Linked DNA regions of Homo sapiens: region 1 is linked to region 2. Evidence: fine-mapped expression QTL. A gene starts in region 2. The other region holds a variant in brackets. All regions are shown on one strand. Distances are from middle to middle.

Region 1 (2,916 bases), 190 kb after region 2:
AATGCTTGGGTTAAAATTTATCCAATACAGGGAACCTTAAAGGAGATGAATTGTAGCAGGCGGAGGCAGAATAGAGAAGGTGGGTAAAGAAAGGAAGTGAAAAGAAATGGAAATTCATATGGACAGTGAGAGCCACCTCACCCCAGCATGTGATTTTGAATTTGCAGGAAGCAGGTATGTCACCTTGATTAGGCTGCCTTCTCCTCCCCATGCCTTCTTCCAAGACCTCCTGAGGTGTCTGTAGCTGTGGCAATCCAAATTGCTATTGGTTGACAATGCAGACACAGCATTTTCCGCTACTTTCTGCTCTCATCCAATCACAATTGCCCCCTTCCCTCCCTCCCTCTTTCTTTCTCTTTCTCTCTTTCTTTCTTTTTCTTTCTTCCTTCCTTCCTTCCTTTCCTTCCTTCCTTTTTCTTTCTTTCCTTTTTTACCACCAAATTGGCTCCTCTGATTGCTTTTTCCTGGAAGTCATCCACTCATCACACAAATCCTGTGTTAACACTTGTTATTCCCATTATGCACTCATGTTTAGCCTTGCATTTCCTTTGATGAAGAGGAATAAATTAGGAGATGGAGATTCATAGGGAAAGTTCATTCTTTTATTTTATAAATATTAAACAAGCATCCCTTATGTTTCAGGCACTGTGTAAGGGACTAAGGATGTAGCAATAAACAAGACAGGCAAAGGCTGTTCCCCAGTGATGCTTATGTTACAGTGTTAGAAGACAGAGGAATAACAAATACACAAAATAACTGTGGATTAGGGATAACAATGAAACAATTTGGGTGGTAAGACAGCAGATAAGTTGAGGAGGCCTTCTGAGACATGACGGTCAAGGAGGGCACCTCTGATGAGGGCGGTGTGAGTCAAGGGCTGAAGGGTGACAGAGAGAAGCTATGCAAAGAGCTAGAGGCAAACAGGCAGAGTAATCAGCAGGTATAAAGGCCTGGATCCAGGAAAACGCTTGGCAAGTTTGAGGAACAGAAGGTCTGGCTGGAGTACAGTGGGTGGGGGAGAACGGACTGAATGATACTGGAGAGGGAGCAGGAGCCAGTCCATTGTAAATAGCTTGGATTTTATTCTAGCTGCAATGGAAAGCCATTGAAGTGTTTCAGCAGGGTGATGGCAAGATGTACTTTACTATTTTTTTTTTTTTTTTGAGACAGGGTCTCACTCTGTTGCCTAAGGCTGGAGTGCAGTGGCACAATCCCAGCTCACTGCAGCCTTGCCTTCCTGTGCTTAAGTGATCCTCTCACCTCAGCCTCTCGAGTAGCTGGGACTACAGGCATGCACCACCAGGCCTGGCTACTTTTTGTATTTTTTGTAGAGATGGGGTTTTGCTATGTTTCCCAGGCTGGTCTCGAACTCCTGGGCTCAAGTGATCCACCCACCTTGGCCTCCCAGAGTGCTGAAATTACAGGTGTAAGCCACTGCGGCTGGCTGCTTTACTGTTTTACATTACTCTGATTACTTTGTGAAAAGTGGGTTGGAGGGTAAGCAATGAAGGCAGCATGCCAATGGACTCTACTTCTTGTACATAACTTTTCTGGAGGCTCACTCAGTGACTGCCTGCCTCCCTTGCCTGACCTCTCGTTGGCCAAAACT[G/C]AATCTGGTGGCCAGCCTTAGCTGCAAGAGATCCTTGGAATGTAATTATTTTAGGCACAGGAAGACAAGGGGAAAATGGCTTGTGAATGTCTTTTGGGTAGGCAATCCACAGTATCTGCCACTAGGGTCATCTGCACTGTATCTGAAACAAGCCTGTGAAATAGACGAGGCAAGTCTTATTTGATTAATCTATAAAGGGGGAGGATGGTTAAAGAGCACAAAGATCATAGGTAATAGAGCAAGGGCTTGAGTCCAGATCTTTTCATCTCAGATTGAATGTACTCTCTCACTACCTTTCATTATTCTAGGCCCCACAATGAACTGATCCTGGTCACACATGTCCTGCTGTGTCTACTGGTGAACCATTCTTTCAACTCTGTCTTCAATATCCAGCATACCTGAGCAATTATTATGACTAAACAGGCGCTGGGAGGATGCTAGGTTATTGAACCTAACTTTAGAATGGACAGGAGCCTTCTAAAATATGGGAGGAAAAATAAATCAATAAACAGTGTCTTTTGTTACACTAGGAAATATTGTTCTGCCAAGCAGAATGATAAAGTGTAGAGCATGTACCCCAGGGGATATGAAAGACATTCCACTGGAGTATGGGAAAAGTATTAGAATTCTGTGTTTGTAAGGCTAGAGATGATATCAACATAGACACAGAAGTTCAGTATTATTAATATCTCATACATAAATTGATACTGGATGTTGGACAGGCACATGCCTTATGCCTATGGAATTCAGGAATTCTGATTCTACAGCATGGAGTGGTTAACAGCAGCATCCTCGCGGTTCACTCACTTTCATGGATTATGACAATATGAGTTTATAAAGAGCTTGGTTAAGCGGATTTACTACAATATTATCTTAAATGGGAAACTAGAATTCTTTTTAATGAGCTGGGGAATGCACATGAAATTCTACTTAGAAAAACAGTGTTTAATCTTGTGAGATAAATATGTAAACATTATATGTAATGGCACTATAGCCAGAATATGACATTATAGATTTTAAGCAGTAAGTATTTAAAATGGACATATTTTTCCAGATTAATGCACAATCTCTTTCATTCATTCTTTTGTACTTTTTCCTTTAACCAGTTTGGATGGAAATATCTCCAAGTAATATCATTTCTACTGTGAAAATTAAATGAATTAACTAATGAAAAGTACCCAGTTCAGTGCTTGCTGCAGAGTAAGTCATTCAATAAATTACAGCTATTGTTTCTCCAGAAATTCAAGGAAGGCAACCACAAGCTGATGGGGTGTTTATTCACCTGGCTGTCTTCTTTTAGAGGTTAT
Region 2 (2,903 bases):
GGGCGCTTCGAGGGTACCACGCACTGAAATGATGGGCGGGGCCTGCCCCGACCCTCCCGGCCTCCACAGGCAGGCCAGCCTCCAGGTTTCCCGGCAAGCTCCGAAACCCAGAGGAGGTGGGGAAAGGAGGTCACCGCGCCTGCGTGTTAGGAAGCGTGACCCGGGTGGGAAAACCCTCCGCGTCCGCCATTTTGGCTGCCTCTGTCGGTCTGTTCAGTTACCACGTGAACCGCCGACGGAGACCCGTAGTGGGGGAGGCGGCGGCAGCGTTAAGTGAGAAAGGAAAAAAGACAACGAGGAAAAAGGAGGTGTCCGGGTAGGGCAACGCGGCGACACCCGAGGCCTGGTGGTGGCGGCGGATCGAGATATTCAAGGCTGAAGCAGCTACGGAACGGCAGCGGCGGCGGTCGGACAAACTGACTGACCGAGCCGGGTGGTGGCGGGAGCAGCGGGAGCAGCCGGAACGATGCCGGCCGTGAGCCTCCCGCCCAAGGAGAATGCGCTCTTCAAGCGGATCTTGGTAAGTGTGAGGCTCCGGGCAAGCGGTGGGGAGGATTTAGCCGGTAACCGGGCCTGTCACCCCTAACCTCGGCCCGGCGGGCACTGAGCCACTCCCGCCCGGGACCCCGCCTTCATAGCTCTCGTCAGGCCGAATGCATTGCTTTGCTCCCTCTCTGTGGTTCCTACTATGGCCCGCGCGCCAGGGACCACAGGCTTCTTCATTCCATCCCCACGCTTGAGGCCCTGGTTCCGGACTAGGCCCCGACCTCCCGGCTTCTAGACTGCCGGTTCTCATTCTCCCCGATCTGGGGGAGAAGAGGCCCGGCCTTTGGCGGGCAAGTGGGCGACACCGGCAGGAGTCGCGGCCCGGTTGGTGTGGGAACCCTGCTGGCAGGTCGGGGTGGCACCCTTGGAAGGAACAGGTGGTGCGGATGCAGCAGGCTCATTCATTGCCTAAACGCGGTTCTCCCTCCATCATCTGTCCCTCCCTCTTCCTCCTCTCTTGGGATTCACCTGTCTCCGCCCGGCCCGGGGTCACCCAATGACCTGAGAGGAGGGAAAGAAGGAGTTCAGAGAAGGAAAGAAAGCTTTTCAAACGACTACCTCCTTGTAGTCAGTTGCATACTGGAGTCTTCAGCTCCTCTGCCTCCGTTGTTCTCGTTTCTGGAGTAGGGATGAGGCATTTATTTCTTAGTTTCCGAGCGGGAAACAGCCCCACCCCGTCACTCTTCTCGGGAGGTGGGGCCCATTGCGAGGGGGCGGTTCGGTAGGAAGTAAAAAGTTGAGTCTTTAGTTGAAACGTTGCAGACCTAGACTTTTCTTATACACTGAAGTATATTAACACATGCAAAAACTTACCAGAGAAATGAGAATATAAGAACTTTTGAGATGGATTTTGTTGACGCTAGCTCAGACTTATTCCCTACGGTTCAAATGTGTGCAGTTTGTATTTTTTTAAACCATAAATGCATTGATGTTTGCAGGGACTGTTTACATTGTAAAATATGTCCTGTAGCCTTGGAGCTATAATTAACACATTGTAGCACATTTTTTGTTTGGCATTTAGTATGTGGGTTCCCCCTTTCACGCAAACGTTTCCTTATGATAGAATTAACTGTATTTGCCAAATTTAAGACTTTTAAAATTTGGGATGTGTGTGTGAAAGTGTTAGCCTTTTCCCCCGCAGTTATAATTTATTTCACCTGTTTGAAAAGTAGAACAACTCTGGGGATTCAGTTTTTCTAGAAATGAATAATCATCCATTTGAACTAACTTTGATTTTACAAAAGTGTCCATATGCCCTACAGATTTAGTGAATTCATTTTGAAAAACATTAGAAAGTCACATGCAGTGTCGCAAAACTGTTACCTTGAAATTCTTACTGGAATTTTGTTTTGTTTTAAGACTAAGAGTGTAGGTGGAGCTGTAAAATAGTTTTAGGAAAAAAGTTACTTTTAAACCCTTAAAAAGACTAATTGGTGTGCAGGTAGAACTGTAACATAAGTTTAGAATAGCAATTTATCTTTAATCTCTTTTTCACAATTCTTTATTTTGAAAAAAATGAAACTGAAAAGTTGAGAGAACAAGGAACACTCATAAACCTTTACTTATATTTATTTGCCATATATGCTTTCTCTCTCCCTATGTATATGTATATATACATTTGTATAAAAGTAAGTTGTAGATGTAAAATTTATCTCTAGGCTGGGCACGGTGTCTCATGCCTGTAATCCCAGCACTTTGGGAGGCTGAGGCAGATGGATCACTTGAGGTCAGGAGTTCGAGACCAGGCTGGCCAACGTAGTGAAATCCTGTCTCTACTGAAAATACAAAAATTAGTCAGGCATGGTGGTGTTCGCCTGTAGTCCCAGCTACTAGGGTGGCTGAGGCACAAGAATCGCTTGAACCCGGGAGGTGGAGGTTGCAGTTCCAGCCTTGGCAACAGAGGAAGACTGTCTCAAAACAAAAACAAAAAACTTCATCTCTAAATACTTAAGCAAGCATCTCCTAAGAATAAGGACATCGTCTTGTATACTTATAACAATCATTCTCTAATATTGTCTAATATCTGGTTCATATGGAGATTTTCTCAAGTGTTAGCACTTTTTTTTGTTTGTTTGTTTGAGACGGAGTCTCGCTCTGTCGCCCAGGCTGGAATGCAGTGGCGCGATCTCGGCTCACTGCAAGCTCCGCCTCCTGGGTTGACGCCATTCTCCTGCCTTAGCCTCCCAAGTAGCTGGGACTACAGGTGCCCGCCACCACGCCTGGCTAATTTTTTGTATTTTTTAGTAGAGACGGGGTTTCACCATGTTAGCCAGGATGGTCTCAATCTCCTGACCTAGTGATCCGCCCGCCTCGGCCTTCCGAAGTGCTGCTATTACAGGCGTCAGCCACCGCACCCG

Alleles and levels. Alleles are on the strand shown, and positions count from the first base shown. SD is a standard deviation of normalised expression in the study named.
For the expression in esophagus muscle of the gene that starts at base 1,166 in region 2, C is the low allele of the variant in region 1 and G is the other (small effect, 0.18 SD a copy in GTEx).

Evidence for each region. PIP is the estimated chance that this variant, and not a neighbour inherited with it, causes the effect.
Region 1: its variant is fine-mapped to the expression of NDUFC1 in esophagus muscle (GTEx, PIP above 0.99). The same link has a PIP of 0.9 or more in breast, sigmoid colon and tibial nerve.

What each region holds. Positions count from the first base shown.
Region 1 is chr4:139,492,394-139,495,309 of GRCh38, forward strand. It overlaps a transcript of SETD7 not described here. Among named protein-coding and RNA genes, the nearest start is that of RAB33B, 40 kb to the left of the region's middle. The variant G/C (reference allele first, on the strand shown) is at 1,610.
Region 2 is chr4:139,301,312-139,304,214 of GRCh38, forward strand. NDUFC1 (NADH:ubiquinone oxidoreductase subunit C1) reads right to left here and starts at 1,166. Exons shown (of 6, transcript NM_001184989.2): 1 at 1,105-1,166. It overlaps NAA15 (N-alpha-acetyltransferase 15, NatA auxiliary subunit), which reads left to right and starts at 194. Exons shown (of 20, transcript NM_057175.5): 1 at 194-520. The coding sequence starts at 467. RefSeq lists an enhancer at 185-244.